Linked DNA regions of Homo sapiens. The protein of the gene in region 4 interacts with the protein of the main gene of each other region in a pairwise test. Each region holds a gene or a part of one and is shown on either strand. Other genes may lie near its edges.

Region 1 (3,500 bases), on a different chromosome or scaffold from region 4:
CTTTTAGAGACCCTGAGGTTTGTTCTTCATCCCCTGCTGCCTCTTGACTACATCTGTCCTCTCGCCCTTGCATCATCTTTTCCAGCCACGTTGTCCTCCCTGCTGTTACTCTGTCCTGTCATGGACACTGTATTCCCTGTTGCTGGTAACAAATAACAGACTTCACAGATTAAACAACACTTTTGTTCTTTCTGACATGGGGAGGACGGTCTCCCACCCCTCACCCTCGAAAGGAGTGGCCAGCCACAACCCTAAATCATATTGTTTCACTATCCAGAGTGATCCAGAGTTGGCACCCTAACAAACAAAGACACTGTCCTCCCGCATGATATGTCAGGATCCTAGAGATTACCTCTCAGATGCTGAGGACAAAGTTCTGACTTCTTTTTACTTAGGGTAACTTCTATATAAGGATATACAACATAAACACAGATATATAAACTATTGATTTTGTTATTGTTTTTCCTTAAATTTCCTTTTGATTTATATTTCACTATGAACATAATGTTTTAATTTAGTAATTTATCATGCAAGATTTTTGACTGACCAGAAAATTCCTTAGAAATAGTAACAAATTAAATGTATATATTATATCAGTTTTTTAATGGAGTCTGTTATTTCCATCAAGGATTTTACATATGAGACATGGTGTGGTTATAAATTGGTCACATACAAACCAGAAAACAAGATTCATGGGGAAAACATAAACTGAACATTCATTAAAGTTGAATGCCATATCCTAAGTGTGAAATCTTAAAAACACCAAACAAAGGCTTCATTTGTCCACATCTCTTCATTCTGTGTCCTTATAGGCGGCAAGACTATTGCGGAAGCAGGACCACATGAAGACTGCCCTTGCCAGCAAATCTGGGAACAAACTGCAAGTGACTTAACCCAGTCTCAAGACTCCATCATAAATAATTCTCACTTCTTTGAACAAGGTGATGTCCCCTCCCAGGTTGAGGCAGGACTATCTATAATTCATACAGGACAGAAACCTTCACAGAATGGGAAGTGTAAACAGTCCTTCAGTGATGTTGCCATCTTTGATCCTCCTCAGCAGTTCCACTCAGGAGAGAAGTCTCATACATGCAATGAGTGTGGAAAAAGCTTCTGTTACATCTCAGCTCTTCGTATTCACCAGAGAGTTCACTTGAGAGAGAAACTCTCTAAGTGTGACATGCGTGGTAAGGAATTCAGTCAGAGCTCATGTCTGCAAACTCGTGAGAGAGTCCACACTGGAGAGAAACCATTCAAATGTGAGCAATGTGGGAAAGGCTTCAGATGTAGAGCGATACTTCAAGTTCACTGCAAATTACACACAGGAGAGAAACCTTATATTTGTGAGAAATGTGGGAGGGCCTTCATTCACGATTTCCAGCTTCAGAAACATCAGATAATTCATACTGGGGAGAAGCCGTTCAAATGTGAAATATGTGGTAAGAGCTTCTGCCTTAGGTCAAGTCTTAATAGGCATTGCATGGTCCACACAGCAGAGAAACTGTACAAATCTGAGGAGTGTGGAAAAGGCTTCACTGATAGCCTAGATTTGCATAAGCATCAGATAATTCACACAGGACAGAAACCGTACAATTGTAAAGAATGTGGGAAGAGCTTCAGATGGTCCTCATATCTTTTGATCCATCAGCGAATCCACAGTGGAGAAAAACCATACAGATGTGAGGAGTGTGGGAAGGGCTACATTAGTAAGTCAGGTCTTAACTTGCACCAGAGGGTCCATACTGGAGAGAGACCTTATAATTGTAAGGAATGTGGGAAGAGCTTTAGCCGGGCTTCAAGTATTTTGAATCATAAGAAACTCCACTGCCGGAAAAAACCCTTCAAATGTGAGGATTGTGGAAAGAGGCTTGTACACCGGTCTTTCTGTAAAGACCAACAAGGAGACCACAATGGAGAAAACTCATCCAAATGTGAGGACTGTGGGAAGCGCTACAAGAGGCGCTTGAATCTGGATATAATTTTATCATTATTTTTAAATGATATGTAAGTTGTACATATATATGGGATATGGTATGAAATTTTAATATGTGTATATAATACGTAATGATCAAATTGATGTAATTAGTGTATTACCTTAAACAATTAACATTTCTTTGTTTTGGGAAAATTCAAAATCCATTGTTCTAGCGATTTGAAAAGAAACAATAAATTATTGTTGATTATAGTCACCTTTGGTGCTTTAGAACACTAGAATGTATTTCTCCTATCTAGCAGTACTTATGTATCTTGTTACCCAATCTTTGGCTATCTCACCTAACCCCTACACTTCCCTGCTTCTAGAACCACTGTTTTACTCACTAATTCTATGAAATCAACTTTTTTAGCTTCCATATGTGTGTGAGGACAGTTAGTATTTATCTTACCTTGCTTAGCTTATATTGTTTAACATGTCCTCCAAAGCTCATCTATGTTGCCACAAATGACACAATTTTGTTTTCTTTTTATGCCCAAAGAGTATTCTATTGTGTATATATGCCACCTTTTCTTCATTTATCTATTGATGGACACATAGGTGGGTTCCATATCTTAACTATTGTGAAGAATAGTGCTCCAATGAACATGGTAGTGTAGATATCTGATCCACATACTGATTTCCTTTGCTTTGGATATACTCAATAGTGGGATTGCTAGATCACTCGAATCTTATGCCTCAGAGGCTTGACACAAGAGCAAAACTATGGAAGTGTGGCTAGGGTGATATGGCTTCATACCACCTCAGGCCTCAAGTCCTCAACTGCACCAGAGTGTCCACGTTGGACAGAATCCTTAGTAATGAGGTGTGTGATAAAGTCTCTGCTCAGTTGTCTATAATCTCATTTGAGAGTTCACAAAGGGGCAAAACATTAAAAAGAGGCATATGGTAAGCACTTCAGTGTGTGTTTATATCATAATTTATCACAGTCCATACTGATAATATATTTCATCCAGGCTTGTAGGACAGAAAACATTTGTTTAAGTTAAATTCAGTGTTTCACCATAGCTCAGCATTCTCCCATCATCCTAGGACCATCGTAGTAGAGAACTCTTGTAAATTGTGCAGTAGGGTTGCAAACAGAACTTACGCTTGTCATTCAGGAGACAGGCCTTAGAATAAGAGTTTGTTCACACATTTACAAAACCCTAATGATGAACATGTCAAAAGTGGTGACCACTAGAATGTCAACTACAGGTACCTTGTTTTCTGCATCCTCAGGACCTTAACACTGATTAGCACTTACATGTTTAGTATGTGTTAAATGACTCAAAAGGAGAAAATATGATATTTTAAAATTGCATCTAGGAGAGAAAATCTACAAAAAATAATTCAGGGACACGAGTTAAAATGCAGAATACACTCAGTTCTGCAATCCAAAGCATTATTTTGGGTAATCTTACCCTGTTGCACTTGGCTGCTGGCTTCCCCTCATCCTCTGTTCTGAAGTTTACTACTAGTGGCTTTGTCTAATGCTCCATTGGTTGCATACAATATAAATTCAACA
Region 2 (3,500 bases), on a different chromosome or scaffold from region 4:
GGCCTGCACTACAGCTAAATTATAATAGGTCATTGGAATGCTTGGCACGCAAGGCCCTTTATGTGCTAATTCAAACCTGAATCCTTTTGCTTCTTTACATATTATCTGTATTCCTATTTGCCATTCTCTGAACTTGCAACATACTGTTATTTCTAGTACCTGGAATTCCTCCTGACTTCCATCTTTATCCACCTTTCAAAGATGCTACCTATTGTTTAAAGCTCAATCCGTGAAGCCTACAGATGAAAATATTCCTTCCTTGGAACTTAATATCTTCCTGTTAGTCTTTGCACTGAATTAGTTTTTTATACATTTTTTCTCACCAAAGGCCAGGCCTGCATCTTGCTCATTTCTGTGTTCCTTATAGCACTGGCAAGAGTTTGAACTTTGTAGTTGTTCAGTAAGCATTTGTTGATTAAATGTAAAACTCCAGAGAAAATAGGTGGTACTTAGTATTAACAATTAACATATATTTTTACTTGTATATGGGAATTGATAGGGAGCATCCTCGAATGGGAAAACATCATTTTGGAACTGGACAGGGGTGGGTGGGAAGAGTAGTTGAATGCTGTCTCCTTGCACGTCTGACCATGCACGGTTTCAGAATTCTTGCTGCCTTAACTACTATTACTACCATTTTACAAGTGTCTTAGTTTTCATTTTACCCTACACACTGTATAATGCTATTGGTGAATGCAAATGAGGTGTAAATTCAGATGAGTGAATGTCTTCGTGTGATAGTAGATAGTTTCCAAAGGAGTGATTTTTTTTTCCCATTACAGGCATGTAATGAATTTACTACACATGTGATGAACCTTCTCCGAGAACAGAGTAGAACACGTCCCATTTCTCCAAAAGAGATTGAAAGAATGGTGGGCATCATCCATCGAAAATTTAGTTCCATTCAGATGCAGCTCAAACAAAGCACTTGTGAAGCAGTTATGATTTTAAGATCAAGGTTCCTTGATGCCAGGTATGTGAAGCCATAAATCTATTGCATGGCTTTCCCCCGTCTGTCACTCCTTGTGTATTATTTTCTGTAAAACTGACCAGTTGGTCTTAGATTCTTTTGGCCATATGAGTCTTTTGTACAATGGACAGGTAATTCAACTCATGGTTCCTGTGCTGTCAAGCTTTCCTGTCTGGGAATGGTAATGTGGGTTAGCTGCCAGTTTAGTGACTCAGGAAATGAATAGGATTAGTGTCTCTGCTAATGACTTTAGGAATATGTAGCCTTTCCATTCTGATGCTAAAAGGTATTTTTAAGGATAGTTTTCTGCATATAACTGTTTTAACAAGGGGTATTTTGTAAGAATTTCTTAATGTTACACGGGTTGTGCATAATATGGGAAAATACTTGGAGATACTGATACTCCTAAGAAGGAAGTGGCATTTCAGTTAATAGCAGTTACCACAAAACTCCAGAATCTGTATTTCCAAATCAAGAAAGAAAGCCTACCATTTTTCCTGTAAGGATGAAAATTTCCCTTTATCTGAAGCTTTCCCCAAGTTTCACAGGAGTTAGGTAATATATTGTATATGGTAATAAATTGTCTACAGTGACCTACTGAGTGACAGAACAGAAGAATTGTCAACGTCATAGTGTACGCTGCCCCTGTAGGGATGCCTCTCGGGGCATTGCTAAAGCTTATGATGAATCTGCAGCTTTGGAAAGAAGTTTCTATTTTGTTTTTCTTTCTTCTCCCATGGAATCTGACAGAGGTGATAATTATCATCCAAATCTCACAGTATTAAAGGAAATAACTAAGATAGCTTCTCAACTGGAAAACAAAGTGTGTGGAGCATTTTCAGTGTTTTTCATTTTAGCTCTTTATTTTCATCTCAGTTCCTGCCCATCCTTTTGTACATGGGCTAGCACAGTACCTACTAGTCTCCCTGTCTCCAGTCCTACTGCCCTCCAGCCCATCCTCCATATCCCTTGTCTGTTTCTATAACATCACCGTGCTACCATGATTGCTTTGCTTGAAAACCACAGTAGCTTTCCAATGCTCGATACATGCATACTTCACATATACACTCCTTAACCTGACATTTAAGGCCTGTTCCTGTCTGCATTACTTCTTTGTTGTTGTGAAGATTTTATTATTCTTTTTTCTATTTTAAAAATGCCAAGCTCACTATGGAAAGTTTGGAAAATATATGGAATAAAAGGATGAAGGATAAAAGTTAACCTCATTTTTATTACCTAAAGAAAAAATCACTATAAATGTTTTACAATATTCTCTCTCTTTTTGTTTGTTTGGGGGCTTTTTAAAAGAAATATTTCTGTGATGGGTCAATATGCATAATTTGGTCTGCTTTTTAAAAAATTTACCATGAATACATGAACATTTTCATGTAGTATAAGCTCTAATTATTAATAGCATTTTAACAATTGAAGTTACCAAATGGATATAAAATAAATAATGTCCTTAGCATTCCCTTATGCATTCCCTATGCACTCCACCCAGGCTGGAGTGCAGTAAATGATGCTATCATGGCTCACTGCAGCCTCGACATCCCATGCTCGAGTGATCTTCCTGCTTCTGCCTCCCGAGTAGCTGGGAGGCATTTGCCACCATGCTCGGATAATTTTTGTATTTTTTGTAGAGATGGTGTTTCACCATGTTGCCCAGCCTGGTCTTGAACTCCTGAACTCAAGCTATCCTGCCTCCCAAAGTGCTGGGATTATAGGCAGGAGCCACCATGCCCAGCCAACTATTAATTTTCATATAATTTCTTCCTTTCTTCCTTCCTTCCACAAATATTTATTGGTACTGAGGATATATTGGTAAACAAGACAGATTAATATACTTGCCCCAATTGAGCTTATATTCTACTTGAGGAAACAGACAGTAAACAGGTGAACAAATATACCATAACATTCTATTTAATAATGTAATTAAATGTAATAGGGTGATAAGTGGTATGCAGAAAAATAAAGCAAGTCAAGGGGAGAGAAAATGGAGAGGGTACTATTTTAGATAGATTTTTATTTAAACTAACATTTTAATGAAAATCTTCATTGATTGAACCTTTTTGGTCTTTAGGATTATTTCCTAAGGATCAATTCTTAGAAATGGAATTATTAGATCTGAGTTTGAACATTTTCAGTGTTCTTATTTATATATCACTAAATTGTTCTTTCCTGTGTTTCTTCCAAAATGAAATGCTTCATGGAATTATGTTTCTACTGCTTAGAATTCCTTCTTTTCCTAAGTCTAACCACTTACTTCCCTGGCTCCCACAACAAACTGTCTCTCTAAGCTGGTTACCAGTAATGAGTCATCATCTGTGAGGGTATCTGGAATGGAGCCCGGAATGGAACCAGTGCTTGTACTTGTTGGATCTAGTGAGATCTTGCTCATCGTTCCGGATCTGGTCTAAATGCTCGCTTTTCAGAAAATCCACCTTAATCACCCTGCTGGACTAGCCCTTCCTTCCCTTGAACACTTATACTATGTTTACGCAACTATTCAGACTGAAAGTCATGTAGGCTC
Region 3 (3,500 bases), on a different chromosome or scaffold from region 4:
ATAGGGGTCCAAATTCATTCTTTGTATGTGGTTATTCAGTTCTCCCAGTGCCACTGTTGAGTAGACTGTTCTTTTGCCATTAAATTGCTTTGGCAGCCTTGTCTAAAATCAATTCACCATGAATTTAAGGCTTTATTTCTGGACATTCCGTTCTTTTCCATTGATCTACATGTCTGTCCTTATGTCAGTACAACAGCATTTTCATTACTGTAGCTTTGTAGTAACTTTTGAAATCAGGACCTGTGAGTCCTACAAATGTAAACTTCTTTTTCAAGATTGTTTTGATGATTATGGGTTCCTCAAATTTCCATATGAATTTTATGATCAACTTGTCAATTTCTACAATGAAAACACCTGGGGTTTTAGTAAGTATTGCATTGAATCTGTGGATCAATTTGAGGAGTATTGCCATCTTAGCAATATTTAAGTCTGCCATGCCATGAACATGGAATATGCTTCCATTTACTTAGATCTTTAATTTTTTTCCAATGGTGTTTTGTAGTTTTTACTGTGTAAGTCTTACACTTATTTTGTTAAATTTATTCCCAATTATTTTATTCTTTTTTATGCTATTATAAGTGTAATTGGTTTTCTAAATTTCACATTTGGATTGTTCGTTGCTAGTGTATAGAGATACAGTTGATTTTTGTCTGTTGATCTTGTATCCTGCAAACTTATTTGAATTTATTAGTTCTAATATCTTTTTAGTGAATACATTAGTATTTTCTATATATGACAGCATACCATCTGCAGCTTCCACCTCTGCAATCTGAATGCCTTTTATTTCATTTTCTTGTTTACTTACTTTGGCTAGAACCTCTAGGACAGTGTTGAGTTGGAGTGGTAAAAGTAGACATCCTTATCTTGTTTCTCTTAGGGGGGAAACTTTCAGCCTTTCACCATTAAGTAGGATGTTAGTTGTTCTGATCACGTTTTATTTCATTTTCTTGTTTACTCACTTTGGCTAGAACCTCTAGTACAATGTTGAGTTGGAGTGGTGAAAGTAGACATCCTAATCTTGTTTCTCTTAGGGGGGAAACTTTCAGCATTTCACCATTAAGTAGGATGTTAGCTATGGGTCTTTTGTAGGTGCCCTTTATCAGGTTGAGAAAGTTCCCAATTATTCCTAATTTGTTGAGTATTTTTGTTATGAAAAAGTGTTGGATTTTGTCAAATGTCTTTTCTTGACTATTGAGATGATCATGTGGGTTTTGTCATTTATTCTACTGAGTGGTGTATTACATTTATTTATTTTCAGATGTTAAACCAACCTTGTATTCCTGGAATTTTTGTACCTAAATTCAGAAGGGATACTGGTCTATAGTTTTCTTTCAATGTCTTTGTCTGGCTTTGGTATGAGGGTAATACTGGCCTCATAAAATGAGTCGAGAAGTGTTCTCTTCTGTTTTTGGAATAGATTTTGAAGGATTTGTATTAATTTTTAAATGTCTGATAGAACTTAACAGGATGCCATCTGGACCTGAGCCTTTCTTTTTTTTTTTTTTCTTGACATGAAGTTTCGCTCTTGTTGCCCAGGCTGGAGTGCAGTGGCGCAATCTTGGCTCACTGCAACATCCACCTCCCAGGTTCAGGTGATTCTTCTGCCTCAGCTTCCCAAGTAGCTGGGATTACAGGCATGCGTCCCTACGCCTGGCTAATATTTTGTATTTTTTTTTTAGTAGAGACGGGGTTTCACCCTGTTGGTCAGGTTGGTCTCAAACTCCTGACCTCAGGGGATCCACCTGCTTTGGCCTCCCAAAGTGCTGGGATTACAGGCGTGAGCCACTGCGACTGGCCTGGGCCTGAGCTTTTCTTTGTGGGAAGTTTTAAAATTATTAACTCAATCCTTTAACTTGTTATGGGTCTGCTCAGATTTTCTTTCTTCTTGAGTCAGATTTGGTAGTTTATGTCATTTTAGGAATGTGTGCATTTCATGTAAGTTAGCTAATTTTTTGGCATATAGTTGTTCATGGAATTCCTTTATAATTCTTTTTATTTCTATAAGCTTTGTGATGATATCTCCTCTTTTATTCTTGATTTTAGTAATTTTTTTTCATAGTCTTGCAAAGGTTTGTCAATTCTGTTTAATTTACCAATTTTTAAAATTGCTTCAACAATAATCATTTATTTGGCTTTCTTTTTAGGGTTGATTTCTTTATTCCAGGAGTCTCTGTGGTTGGTGGGTTTTCAATATGCTCCAGTCCCAGACTGCTAGAACAAGAGAGAGTGATAGAATTGGCAGTGAAATATACGAACCACCCTCCTGCCCTCTGGGTTCACAATACGGTAAGCACACTGCCTGTTTAAACGCGATGATCTGGGTATCTCTGCCACCCACAAAATTTGTGTTAAGCTCATTTGATTCACCTAAGAAACCTGGGCTTGAGTAAAAGGGTACATGCCCAGAAAGAGCTTCTAAGAAAGGTCAAAGAAACTTTGATGCATTAAGTATGAGTCAGAGACTTTGGGATCTGGAAGTATTTTCTGGGTCACCAAACGGTATTCAGTTGAATACTGCTTTAGAATTAAAATATTTTATATTTTAGACAAGTTCTAAAAAGTTGGCTCTCTGTGTCATGTAAATGGTAAATCTATAAATCAGATTATTTTGTCCTAACCATCCTAAATAAAGGGAATTAAATTATTATTCTGTCATTTTTGGAGGGGAAACTATCTGATTACATAGTACTGCTTCTTCCCAGAGGTGAGCACAGCTAAATCCACGGTGCCATTGCCTCTCTATTTCAGTGTCTGGAAAGCTCTTCACTCGGGATTCTGAGAGAGAATCCAATTTGATTGCTGTTAATAACTCTTATTTCACCACAGGGCTCAACACAATCCTACAGAAGCTGCCTGTCATTACCTACTAGAACTCTGATAACAAAGAATGAGCTCAGAACAGATCAGTTACTCGTTGTCTTAGTTTTTGACCCTTCTATCCTTTTCACTTATTGCTTTTTCTATTCTTTTCCTTTTCCTTTCACTTCCTCTTCATTGCAAGAGTGTCTTCTATATTTACCAACAACCTCCATCCCAACCAGGCATTTTCTTACCTTCTTTACCAAAAACACATACCAGTATAAATATGGCTTCAAAAACAGCATTTTCCTGTTTCCTGGAAATCATTGAAAATCAATGAAGGAAAAAGAAAACAAAACCTCTATTTTCAGCAAAACTTGGAAACACACTGTAGTATATTTTTAAAGGTTGCAGAGAATTTTTGGGTTTCTGTAGGAGCCACATGGAAATAAGTAGAGGAGAGAGGCCGAGTAGCAAATTTCATAGAGCACCAACAAAAATACATGAGGGAGTGGGGTGGGACTTACAGCTCTTGCCTGCAAAGAGGGTATGGAAACACAGTTGCGTTTTGTGGCTGTAGAAGGCCCACCTGAACGCAGCAAGGTTCAGTTAGGAGAGAAGGCACGCAAAGAATCACACAGGCAAATCATGTTTGTAGGAACTAATATGTCCTGTAGTAGCTGAAGAGAGCTTTTATGTTG
Region 4 (3,104 bases):
AGTGGCACAATCTCGGCTCACTGCAGCCTCTGCCCCCGGGTTCAAGCAATTCTCCTGCCTCAGCCTCCTGAGTAGCTGGGATTACAGGCGCCCACCACCATGCCCGGCTAATTTTTTGTATTTTTAGTAGAGACGGGGTTTCGCCAGAAAAAAGAAAAGTGGACTTTTTTTTTTTAAACACAAAACCTTAAATGATGAGATTAGGGCATATCTGGGTTTAGAGGCATCTGTGGGACATGATACTGAATTGTAATTGCTTCACAAATGGAATTATTCTGCAGCTTCACTCACAAGCTTTGAAAATGCTGTGTGTGCAGAGCTTAAGTGGCAACTGGAAACTTGAACAGGAGAACCAGGAATGTAGCTGATGGAGTTGGGCATTGAGCTCACAGAATGGCCTGGGGGCAGTGAGGCAGGATGCCTGAAAGCTGCCTAGCTAGAGATCAGTCTTCCTTCCCGTGCTCAGCTTTGCCCTTTGGTGGGCTGTTAATTTCTTTTAAAAAATTGTTGTGCATTTGCTAATATGCCACAGATGCCCTTCTGTTCTTTCACGCTGCCTCCATTCTAGGTTTTTTCCCATTTCTTGGCCATAGGTCCTTTGCTGTAGTTTTGAAAGAGCCCTGCCATCCTTCACATGGAGAGCAGTAAGAGGCCAAAGAGCAGTGGCTGAAGAAGATACTAATTTATTCAACAAATACTTGGTGACAGCTGTTATGTGTTAGCCCTTGGTGATCTAGCAATGAACAAAACAGGCACTGTCCCTCCCTTCATGGAATTAGGCATTATAGAGGTAATTTCAAAATTAGAGAGTGGTGCATACTGTGTAGGAGTGGAACAGGGAATACCCTGTATGCAGAGTACACAGTGGAAGGGACCTCACCACAGTGCTGCTCACTATTGGGAAAACGAGGGTAGAAGACATTGAGAAGGGCACACAGCTTCCCTGGTTCTCTACAGACAGCCTCTCGCCTTCTCAAGTGTATTCTTGGCTGACTCATGAAATGCATGGGTGTACTGGTGCTGCTGGAGCCATTAAGACTACCCTCGTCCTCTCCCAAGCTCTCTAGGTCTTGGAAACTCAAGATATTTTGCATATACACGAATATAGTTTGACAGCTTCAAAGACTTTTGAGTTCGTTTAGTCTGAGCCTTTATTTTACAGCTGGGCCTGGTAATGACTATCCTAGCAGCACACAGGTAGCAGCACACAGGACTAGAATCCAGGTTGGGTGAAATGAGCGCTAGCACACCAGTCAGATAATAGCATGAGCCATAAATTGTGCTGGGCACATGGTGCTTAAGTGCCAGGTTCAGCCAGCTAAGGCGTGAGCAGCTGCGAGAGGGGTAGGCATGGAAGACAGGAAACTGGACATCAGAATGTTCTAATAGAAAGTGACATGTTTTGGCATTGAAATGCCATTATGTACCTTTAGACACCCAGGCTTTTCCAAAGAAAAACAGGGATGCACAAATTCGTGAAGCTGACAACTAAATGTATATAGATGCTGAGAAAGGTCCACATTGAAAAATGACAACTTTGAATGTTCATAGTCTAATAGAATGCCAATCTTCTTTGGTGGAACTGTTATTCTTATATCTGGAGTTGTTCTGTTGTGCAGAAATTCATACTTATGCCTGAAAATTAAATTTGACATAATAAAGTTTCAGTAATTCTATAGATTGACTATTTATAGAACATTTCATACTAATTTTATTCATAGTCCTATGATTTTGCTATTTTCTAGTATTAAATGACTACCAAGGTGACAAGCCATTTCTAAAACTATACTCTCTAAACTATCTCTTTTCTAAAATTTGTCCTAAGAAACATTTTCTTTTTTTTTTTTAGATGGAGTCTTGCTCTGTCACCCAGGCTGGAGTGCAGTGGTGCAATCTCGGCTCACTGCAACCTCAGCCTCCTGGGTTCAAGCAATTCTCCCACCTTAGCCTCCTGAGTAGCTGGGATTACAGGCGTGCACCACCAAGCCCGGCTAATTTTTGTATTTTTAGTAGAGACAGGGTTTCACTGTGTTGCCCAGGCTGGTCTCGAACTCCTGAGCTCAGGCAGTCCACTTGCCTTGGCCTCCCAAAGTGCTGGGATTACAAGTGTGAGCCACTGCTTCTGGCCGAAACATTTTTCAAACATCATTTTTTCTCTAGCAACCTCTTAACCTAAGAAATTTACCTATAGCATCCTGAACTCTCTTTCATCTAAACTAGCATAGGAATAGAACATGTTTTTAAAATTTGGATTAGACATTTGAAACAGGGAACCTTGTGATTTTCCATGTGATAAAATGGGCTTCTTGGTATAAGCTCTTCTATGCACAGTTACTCCAGTTCTTAAACTTTCATATTGAGTGGGGAGCCAGTGGGCCTGTTACCAATCAATACTATATCACTATCCATGCTCTACATCCTGTGTACTTTGAAAAATGGCAGAAATGAAAACCTGTCACAGGAATTTCCTAACCCTGCTACCTACAGATATTTGAAGAGCTCTTTGTGTCAACAGGCTAGTCTAGGCTACTGGGATAAACACTTGGAATATGATCTAAACGTGTCAGAGGAAGCCTGCCTGTCTCTAGCCCATTTCACCTTAATTTAACTAAGCAGCTGCCAGAAGCTATGAGTCGTTTCTTCTACTTTCTATGCTACCACCAATAAAGTCTAATACTATGAGCCAAAAATGCAAGTCTGCTAGGAGACCTTATCCTAGGATACCTTACCTTCATTCTCCACTTGTAACGTGTGTGCACGTGTGTGCGTGCACGCACACACACACACACACACACCCTACATCTGTAAGAAACTGGCTTGGCTCTAGCACTTGGACTGTAGCTTTTGCCCTTCTTTTGTCATTCTTCTGTTTCCACCCCTCTTCTATTGTGTCTTCTTACCCCCTTTATTCTTCCCTCTACACGTGGACTTCTAGGCTTTCTTTATGCTCCCTTAGTTTTACTCTGCCCCTTGTTCTTGCCTTTCTAAAGAAGAGACTTTGCTCTTTAGTCTTACTTCAGGCAGAATCCCCAAATAAAGTATCTGCCTCAGTGTATAGTAATTCTTGGATTCCCCAAACTGGGTGTGAGGTTTAGTAGATTTCA
Region 5 (2,824 bases), on a different chromosome or scaffold from region 4:
ATCAAGAGTGGGACAATTCTCTTAAGACACCTACCCCACCTTTCATCAAATATCCCCGACCTTAGATTTAGTGCAGGAGTCCTGAAAAACATTTCCACAGGGAAGTTTGGGTCCCAGGCTTATGGGTATCCCCCTACCACCTTTGGCAGGACAAAAATGAGTAAAGCAAAGCTTCTTGCTTCAGAAATATTCAGTCTAATACAGTGTGTACCCCACAACGTAATCATCTCTTCATTTCAGAAGCCTTAATTGCATAAAGTTCCTCGGGAAAGGGATGATATTTGTTTGTTTGTTTTTTTAAGGATAAGGCCAGTATTGGCTCAAACTTATATTTATTCTTCCCAAAGAGTTCCTCCCAGGTTCATAATCTTGATGTAGGAGAGTGCTGCACCAAGTTGCTTCTTTCTTCCCAACCTGTCCTACTTTGCGGGAGGAAGGAAGAAAAGAAAACAAACAAACAAAAAAAAAAAAACAAGGAAGCTGCACTAGAGCCACTGCCCTCAGACATCAACTTCTATTTCTTCTCCACTGCTGCAGTCTGAAGAGTTACTGCTTTCTTCCTTTTCTCTATCTTTCTTCCTGTTCTCTTCTGGTTCCATGGAGACATGACAGTTTACCCAAATAGTCTGTGATGAATCTGTTCCTGCAGCCTGGAGCCCTTGCCCCTCCCCAAACCCTTCTTGCAGACCCTTTGCTGATGAGGACTGTGGATCTGCTTGTTTCAACCTGGGGTCCGGGCCTCCTGTCATGGCCATATTCTTACCCTTAGCATAGGTCGATTCTTTGTATGCAGCATAATTTTCAGGTGACAAAGTCTTGAGCCAGAGATCCAATTTCACCTTGTATTGCTTCTGCAGCTCCTCAGCCTGGCTCTTAAAATGATCCTTCTGGCTCTGCGGGATGCGCTGCCAGCGTCTGCCAATCTCTACCATGCGCTCCCTCACTGACAAATGTTGCATCTCTTTACTTGACCAGGAATCTTGGTGAAACTTGTGGTATCCATTCATGGGGGGTTTCTGAGGCTCTCCATGAAATTTTACCTTCTTGAAAAATCGATCCGTTTTTGGAAGAGACCTCACTTCTTCAATATTTTTCTGAAACTTCTTTTGCACTTTGTTTTGAGTCCTCTTGGAGACACTAGATTTCTTGGCCTTCTGGACTAAATCAGGGTGTTCTTCCCTGAATCGAGCAAGTTTTTCCTCAAATTCTTGCTTTTCCTTCCGGAAATCCTGAATATATTTCTGTTTCATCTGCTCTGGGAGTTCCCTGTATTTCTTTGACAGGATTTTGGTCAGTTCCTGGCTTCTCATCCCAGGGTACATTTGGGAGTACTGGGGCCAACTCTCCTTGAAGAAGCGATTGTAAGCAGTAAGGGGCCTCTTTGGAAAGTCTGGACCGTTCCTGTATTTTTGGCTTTTGTTCATCTTTTTAACACATTTCTTAGCTTCCAGGACTAATTCTTTCAAAGTGCCGAATTTTCTCAAGTTGCAAGAAATCTCTAACCATTTGAGTCTGCACATTTCACCAGAAAAGTTTTTAAAAGCTACTTTTCCCCAGTCCATGTGTGACTGAGTTGAGCTAAACGTGCTGTTGTCATCAGATGGGCGATTATTCTCCATGCATTCCAGTAACCTCAAGATGTCTTTGTTGGACCAATGGCCTTGGCTTCTAGGCAAAGCCATTTAGATGTCTTTGGCTTACTTATAAGATCCCGGTTATGTAGACACCAGAGCAAGAACACAGAGTTCTTTACTTTTAAGACTCAGTGGATGATTTATTTCTGGAAGTATTGCAGTATGTGTGATTCTGTATTTCTGAGGAGAAAGAAAGTTACTCTCCTTCATTTGGATTAATGAAGCAAATTACATCCTATTTGTCATATGTCCCTTGTATAATTCATTTGACCCTTAACTATAAATAAACATTGCCTGTTTCTGAATTAAATTTATGTTTGCCTTTCATATGCTACATGCACAATATTCAGTATCTCCACACCCCACCCCAGCCTGCTTTCTGCCAGATCTCACATGAACCTATCTTAAATTGAGTTGCATAACACAAACACCAGACCACTCATCACTTAAGAAGCTTAATATAACAGAAATGCCCTGAAGACAGAGTCAGAAGTTAAAGTGGAAGGAGAAATGCCTAAACAGGAAGGACTGTTCATTCTACAGTGCCCTGAGTATGGCCATTTTCTAAGCACAGCCCAAATAGCCATAGCTAAAGGTGCAGATGAGAAGTTAAAGATACAATCGGACAAGCCCAAGAGCTCCTCCAGACATGCATCCAACTGTTACCTTTTTATAAGGGAATGTGAACCTGTGATAAAAGACTGAATTATAGATTCTCCAGGACCAGTGCATGGGAATTAATGCTTTCTTGCTTTCTTTTATTTCTTTTTTTTTTTTTTAATTGAGACGGAGTTTCACTCTTGTCGCCCGGGTTAGAGTGCAGTGGGGCAATCTGGGCTCACTGCAACCTCTGTTTTTCAGCTTCAAGTGATTCTCCTGCCTCAGCCTCCCAAGCAGCTGAGATTACAGGCATGTGCCACCACGACTGGCTAATTTTTCTGTATTTTTTAGTAGAGATGGGGTTTCACCATGTTGGCCAGGCTGGTCTCGAATTCCCAACCTCAGGTGATCCGCCTGCCTCGGCTTCCCAGAGCGCTAGGATTACAGGCGTGAGCCACCACTCCTGGGCCGGGAATGAATGCTTTCTAAGAACCATACTGCTTCTCCTTTTAAATATCAAGGATTTAATGACAATTATAAAACATTTCAACTTTATTTGGTTAATTGTTCATCATATTTAAGCCTCAGTG
Region 6 (3,500 bases), on a different chromosome or scaffold from region 4:
TGGTACATTAGTTTGTAAAATGCTTTCACAGCATTAACTCATTGTTAATTCTTATACCGCCAAATGAGATATCATTTCTTTCCTATCCATCTGTTTTACAAATGAGGAGACAGGCTCAGAGAAGTAACCTACTTATCTAAGGCCACATAGCTAGTAAGTGGTGGAACCAGAACTGGAACTAAGGCCATTTAACTGCAAATACTGACCTCCTGTCATTTATCAAGCCATTTTCAGACGGCATGATATTCTCCTGAGGAGCAAAGGAATGGAATTAGAGCTAGCACAAGGAGAAATTGTGCATAGCTTGCTGCCTACGTAACTTATGCAGAAGATCTGAGCAGTCTTCCTGTTTTTAGGGATATTTTGCACATGTGAACTATATAGTGAGAAAATGTCAAAAACTAATACATGATATACTGTTTGTCTCTTAGTGTCCATCCTTGAGTAATAGAATTTTGTTTTAGATTTATTTGAACATTTACCATCACAATTAAATTTTAGGTCAACAACCAGCCTTGAGAAATCCAAATACCAATTTGACTATAAATATAGTAATACGTTTAACTGCAATAACTATAGCTATAAGTGCGTACCAAACCATGTTTTTTCCAAATGACCTTAATTTCTTGGCACTACCCATGTTGGATACCTCATTTGCTTCCCCAAAGACTGGGCCCAAAATTTCTGTTGTTTCTACAATGATTCTGCCTGCCAACAAAGTCTGAAAATCTCAAGTTTGTTATAAAAACAGCACAGTTAGAACATGATGACATTCCTGGAGGGAAAAATAAGTCCACTTATTTGTTTCTAAAATGCCTGTATCCCAAGCAACTAGAACACATAGTTGGCTATACTTAATGAGGAGTCAAGACAAACCATTCAATTCTTCTAAAAAAGTAAGAAAGTATTCAAAGCACCAGAGTCACAATGTTGAGCTCAGGTGCAATTTTCTATTCACTTTACTTCCAGCATGGTCGGGTTAAGAGTGGACTACATAGCTTGAAGCGGATTTCGTTGAGATTCGTTGTAATTGAATCAACAACTGAATGAGCATGCCTAAGTAGTGGCTCCAGAGAGTCTGCTTTCAGATTTTCTTGCCAGCTTTGACCCAAGATTACCCTGGGTCTGCGAGTTTTATCACCTGCTTTATCATTTGATTACAAGTATAGTATAACTGTATTTCCTTGTGGGATAGAAGCTGTAAAAAATAAGCTGAAAATAATAGGGGATATATATAAATAAACGATCTGAGAAAGAATAAAGAAAATAATTACAATCATGCACATGATTTACTCAACTTCATTCTTTTACCTCTTTTTAATGGTGTTAAATGCTCACAATTTATATTTATACTCTGTCGAATGTCAAAAAAAATTTTTTAGAGAGAGGGGTTAGTGCATCGGGGATATTTATTTGGTTATTATTTTATATAATTTTTTCTTTTTCTATTTTGGCTTCAGGGAATCTAAATTGAAAAAAAAATACTAGGTAGCAGAATTCTGATATCTAGTGTACAGAGATCAAATCTTAGTCTGAAAAAGAAGGGCCTAGTATGTCTTATCTTTAGTTATTGGAGTTACACAGTGAGAAAAAAAAATTTAGTGACCTAATACTGTGAAGAAGTTTCCAGAAATAGTAATCTCTTTTTGTGGAATAGAAGGAGAGGCTATACTACCTCCTTAAGTCTCAGGACCTTTTTGAAGATTGAGAGGCTGTTTTAGCCTCTGCATCTGCCTGCTAGAGAAGAGTAAGAACATGGCAGAGAATCCCAGAAATGTAGAGCTCTCTCATTCATCTCTGTATCCCATGCTTATTTAGCATAGGTATCTAGCACAGAGACTCTCAATACTTGTTAAATGAATACAGTGCAAAGTCTTCCTCCTTATACACTGAAGAGATTTAATAACCTGGGGATTCTTATCCAAGCTTTTCTAATTGGGTCTGGAAAATATATAAGAAAACACTGCCTGTTAGGATAAACATCCATCATAGCTGCTGGAGCACTGCTCCCTTTTTGAGAGCTGAGTGAAGAATGAAAGAATGAAAGGTGTTCATTTATTTTTATACTCCAGGAGTCAAGAGTTTTGCTACCAAGGATTTTCCATTTAAAGTGTGAGGTAGAGGAGAAAAGTCCCCTTCAAGTGTCACTAAACATAGGCATTTGCACAAGCTGCTTAACATATCATACCAACTCATTCATCAAAGAATTTAATTAAAGAAGCCATCCCCATTTAATAAGACTGATAAATAGAAACCCTCGTCAGGGATGATACAATTAGCTCGAATTGTGTAACTTCAGCAGGATACCAATTGTTCAAATGTATTCTATTGCCTTTTTGTTGACATTTTTTAAAATTCTTGGGCCCTCAATGGCAGGCATTTTCTTCTTTCTCATATAGGTGAATCTTTATCATTATGGAACTTATGGTCATTTGTTTTGGATTTTAGATGTCTTGTCTTGCAATATATTCCTGGGTTTACCTTGGGACTTCTCTAATAATAATGATGGCTATTCATATGTGTCTGATGGCTCTTAACACACAAGAAACTAAGGATAAAAATATGGCATACTCAGTCACATTGGAACTTGGTCACACAAGTCTTTTGAGATATCTGTTTCCCTGCATCTGTACCCATTTTCTATCAGATCCATCTTTTGATCTGTGAAAAATGGCAGATAATACTTGGTACATTTTACAGGTTTGGTGGCCTAAAACTCCAGGCCTGTTTAACTTCTTAACAATTCAAGAATTATATGGATGGAAAATGTTTTTCTTTACATTTCTTTCTTTATATAGGAAACTGTAATTTAGCTCTAAATTCAACTAGCCAGCTGGGACTAGTCTAATCATTGAGAGACATGACACCAAGTAATTCCGAGGCTCAGCTTTAATCTTGACAACATTCCTGTCACATTCACTTCCATGATAGAAGACAGATTGCTTTAGAAGACTTAAGTTACCTTGACCTTAAACTAGAACTTTTTATTAACAGCTGTTCCCAAGATAAACATTTAATACCTCTCTGGAAGGGAGAGATTGAGAACATTTACTGATTCATCAAAACCTTGGGGATTTCCTTGTTCTCTGAAGCGTCAGTGATATTTTTATTAGCTCTATTTTTATTTCTTAGGTGCTTAGAAAAATTCCCATCTTTTCCCATCAGTGACCATTCACTAGTTCAAAATGGGAAAAACAAAATCTTTGTTAGACTTTCATTTCTTTCGGTTTATTCAACCTTGTATTTTAATTGTAGATAGGGATAAATTATCTGGTGTTTGATACCCTTAGAAAGTTCTTCCCACCTGGAGTGTAAATTAGTTTAACCATTGTAGAAGATAGTGTGGTGATTCCGCAGACCTAGAGGCAGAAATGCCATTTGACCCAGCAATCCTATTACTAGGTGTATACCCAAAGGAATATAAATCATTCTGTTATAAAGATACAAGCACACATATGTTCACTACAGTACTATTCAATACTATTCAATAGCAAAGACAT
Region 7 (3,500 bases), on a different chromosome or scaffold from region 4:
GAGGAATTATTAGAATGTTAACATTATTGATGACCAAAGTAAATATACATCAACACACTTTTCAAAGACAGTTTCTATTTAGAACCCATGATAAAATTTGATAATTGCTCACATGAGAAAAAACAACCAACAATATACAGAAAACAAACGAATATTTAAAAAATATAGGCTGCCAGGTGCAGTGGCATGCACCTGTAGTCCTAGCTATTTGGGAGCCTGAGGCAGGAGGACTGACAGAGCCCAGGAGTTCAAGTTCTGCCTAGGCAACATAGTGAGACCCCATCTCTTAAAAAGCAACGTCATCAACGGCAATAACAACATTCATTCTCTTGGGTTCAACACCTGTGAAAAGATATATATATAGAGACTATCTTACCAGTCTTGAGGCATAAGTTTAAGGGGCTGGTCTACTACTCTATAAGGTACTGTAACACTAATTGCAGTGCCCCCTGGTTGCATCTGGTCTTTTCTTCTTTGTATTAGAGTTTCATTTTCTCGTTGACAACCTTGTTTCTTCTTTTCATCTGATGGGACAAATCTTTGAAAAAACAGAGATGAGAAAAAGTCAATGTATTCCACGTGATGAAAATGGGAAGATAAACTATAATTTGAAATATTTTTTTTTTTTGAGACAGAGTTTTTTCTTATTGCCCAGGCTAGAGTGCAGTGGTGCAATCTTGGCTCACTGCAACCTCCACCTTCTGGTTTCAAGCGATTCTCCTGCCTCAGCCTCCCAAGTTGCTGAGATTACAGGTGACCGCCACCACGCCCAGCTAATTTTTTTGTATTTTTAGTAGAGATGGGGTTTCACCACGTTGGTCAGGCTGGTCTCGAACTGCTGACCTTGTGATCCACCCGCCTCGGCCTCCCAAAGTGCTGAGATTACAGGCATGAGCCACCACGCCCGGTCTGAAATAATTTTTAAACATTAATTAGTTTTAAACTAAAGATGTTTGTTTTTAAATAAACCTGCTCTGCAAGTACAGATCATGGAGTGTATAGGTCTTTCCTCTGTATACCAAATAGAACTCAAGCTCACTCAGACCCTAAGTTGGGTGTGTGTGTGTGTGTGTATGTGTGTGTAACACCACACAATTTATATTCATTCAACTAGCACTTAGCATTTTCCACACTAATACTTAATTTCTCAAATTCTATTAGAGGAAAACTTCATGATAAAGAGGAATTTTATTAGAAATCAAAAGGTCATTTGAAATGAAAAAGTTGTTGTGGCTAGTAGGCTTCTTTACGACTTAGCCTATCCAGGAGCTTCATAAAACTTTTTTTTTTTTAAGATTTTATGCTTCAGCAAAATTACAAAAATACCATCAAACTTCAGAGTAGCCTTGAAAATTTTAAAGTATGAAAATTAAATCAGTGCATGCTGATAACCTGCTATTATTATCAACTAGTGGCATTTATCAACTTACTTATGTGGATCCATTCTCAAGACAGATATTCTTAAAAATAACTTAGCAATCTGGATAGCTATTACCACCTGTAAAATTTGCTAGTGTTCACAAAGTATTTTAAAAGTCTTATTTTCTAAATATATACATAATCCTAACAGTCCAATAACATATTTTATTAACTATGATCTAGTCTCTCCAATAAAATGGAGGGAATACAATCAATATATTGAGAGTATCATTCTGCTTCTAAAGTTTAAAAGAGATGAAAGGGTGAAAGGACCAAAAAGCACAGGAGAACTTGCACTAATTAGAGTTCTCTGAAAAACTTCAATTACACATATTGGATTCATCACATAATACTAATTTTATTGTCTAGAAAGTTTTTAGTTCATGGTGATAATGATGATACTGAACTTTGCTTCTGAGCTGATTGTTCTCACATCCATTTTACATTTGGTTAAAAAGTTAAGATTTCTATATCATTTAAAAATTTCCCCCAGATAATCATTTGCTTCCTATGGCATTTGGTTTATTTATTAATCAAGCTCACTTAGAAAATGCCAGACAGTACTAATACTTTGAATAATGAAACACATTATTTAGAAAATTTAATATGTGTGCATTGTTTGAAATTGCATTCTAATAAAAAGCCACAACAAAAATGTTTTAATAGTATGTGCAATACATTGTGCTATAAGTTTTATAATATACATAGTTGTACAAAACATAGTCCCTGCCCTCTTGAACTTATGTTCCACACACACAGAACAAAGGGATTCTACTGCCAAGAGAAATGCTTTGTTTTATCTCAGTCTATAACTACATGGGATTTAAACTGTTTTAAGTTGTTAAATATAAGACTGCATCTCCCTCTTTTCTGGCTTCTGAAATTTTAACATGGTGTTAAAGTTTAAATTTACTTGTACAAAATTACTTATAAACTTATAAACAAAATTACTTATAATCATATGACTAGAATGCAAAATACATACAAATGAGTGATCTATTACAATACCAAACTAATAAAAAGTCTATTATACACCTATTTCAACTTTTGCAGGTCTACACATTGGTTGATATGTTTTATAAAAGCTCAGAAACATTAACGTGGTTTTTACAATTAACCACCGTCCTAGAATTTTTAGATGCTGTAGCATGTTAATTTCTGATTATATCTACGTATTTTCTTAGAATTAGTCATCTCTATTAGCAATAAAAAAGGCTTTATTTCAAAACGCTTTTCAGCAAGGATCTCATTTGAAAACATAAGGATAGATCTTATGACCTCTTCCCTAAAGTTAAGTCTACTAAAAAGATTAGTATTCCACAGAGTCAATATAATTTTACCTGTTCACCCTACTGCAGTTCATCAAATCTAAGACACAATGATTGTGAGCTACACCATTATATTGTACCACTATGAAAGGAAAAAACTACTGCCAATTAAACTATGATATTCTACATAAATCACAGTCATCATCCCTCCAGAAAACTGGTTATTTCTTCTGGCTTGGGCTGCACTGCTGGGTGTGTGATAGGCAATTGTTTCATATGTATCTCAGGCAAAATAGGTTCATCTACTATTGCTATCTTCCATTTTTAGGTTCCATAAAGCTCCTGGTTGTTGCTTTGCAAAAAAAAAAAAAAAAAAAAAAAAAAAATACGGGATTAGGGCGAGGTGCAGTGGCTTATGCCTGTAATCCCAGCACTTTGGGGGGCCAAGGTGGGTGGATCATTTGAGGTCAGGGGTTCGAGACGTCTGGCCAACATGGTGAAATCCCGTCTCTACTAAATATACAAAAATTGGCTAGGTGTGGTGGCGTGCGCTTGTAATCCCAGCTACTCTGGAAGCTGAGGCAGGAAAATCACTTGATCTCAGAAGGCAGAGGTTGCAGCAAGCCGAGATCACACCACTGCCCTCCAGCCTGGGGGACAGAGTGAGACTCTGCCTCAGGAGAAAAAAAAAAAAAAAAAAGAATGGGAATGTCATTCCTCTAATGCGGAAGAATTCAAACATCAAATCTGCACTCCACTGCTTCATTTTAGTGTATTTTTGAATATACAACATTTTTATTGACATAAAATTTA

What was found.
Region 1: the proteins of FSD2 (region 4) and ZNF230 interact in binary tests that used the Homo sapiens proteins (3 or more experiments, as listed by UniProt).
Region 2: the proteins of FSD2 (region 4) and PBX3 interact in a two-hybrid assay, tested with the Homo sapiens proteins (3 studies listed by BioGRID and IntAct).
Region 3: the proteins of FSD2 (region 4) and OXNAD1 interact in binary tests that used the Homo sapiens proteins (3 or more experiments, as listed by UniProt).
Region 5: the proteins of FSD2 (region 4) and UBTFL1 interact in binary tests that used the Homo sapiens proteins (3 or more experiments, as listed by UniProt).
Region 6: the proteins of FSD2 (region 4) and ESD interact in binary tests that used the Homo sapiens proteins (3 or more experiments, as listed by UniProt).
Region 7: the proteins of FSD2 (region 4) and CDC73 interact in binary tests that used the Homo sapiens proteins (3 or more experiments, as listed by UniProt).

What each region holds. Positions count from the first base shown.
Region 1 is NC_000019.10:44,009,457-44,012,956, forward strand, and holds part of ZNF230 (zinc finger protein 230), read left to right. Parts: intron 1-812; coding exon 813-2,008; 3' UTR 2,009-3,500. UniProt on the Homo sapiens protein: May be involved in transcriptional regulation.
Region 2 is NC_000009.12:125,928,873-125,932,372, forward strand, and holds part of PBX3 (pre-B-cell leukemia transcription factor 3), read left to right. Parts: intron 1-782; coding exon 783-973; intron 974-3,500. UniProt on the Homo sapiens protein: Transcriptional activator that binds the sequence 5'-ATCAATCAA-3'.
Region 3 is NC_000003.12:16,292,712-16,296,211, forward strand, and holds part of OXNAD1 (oxidoreductase NAD-binding domain-containing protein 1 isoform 2 precursor), read left to right. Parts: intron 1-2,144; coding exon 2,145-2,286; intron 2,287-3,500.
Region 4 is NC_000015.10:82,757,966-82,761,069, forward strand, and holds part of FSD2 (fibronectin type III and SPRY domain-containing protein 2), read right to left. Parts: intron 1,636-3,104; coding exon 1,383-1,635; 3' UTR 1-1,382.
Region 5 is NC_000011.10:90,084,808-90,087,631, reverse strand, and holds UBTFL1 (upstream-binding factor 1-like protein 1), read right to left. Parts: upstream 1,683-2,824; coding exon 501-1,682; downstream 1-500. UniProt on the Homo sapiens protein: Essential for proliferation of the inner cell mass and trophectodermal cells in peri-implantation development.
Region 6 is NC_000013.11:46,773,162-46,776,661, reverse strand, and holds part of ESD (S-formylglutathione hydrolase), read left to right. Parts: intron 1-3,500.
Region 7 is NC_000001.11:193,230,031-193,233,530, reverse strand, and holds part of CDC73 (parafibromin), read right to left. Parts: intron 539-3,500; coding exon 377-538; intron 1-376.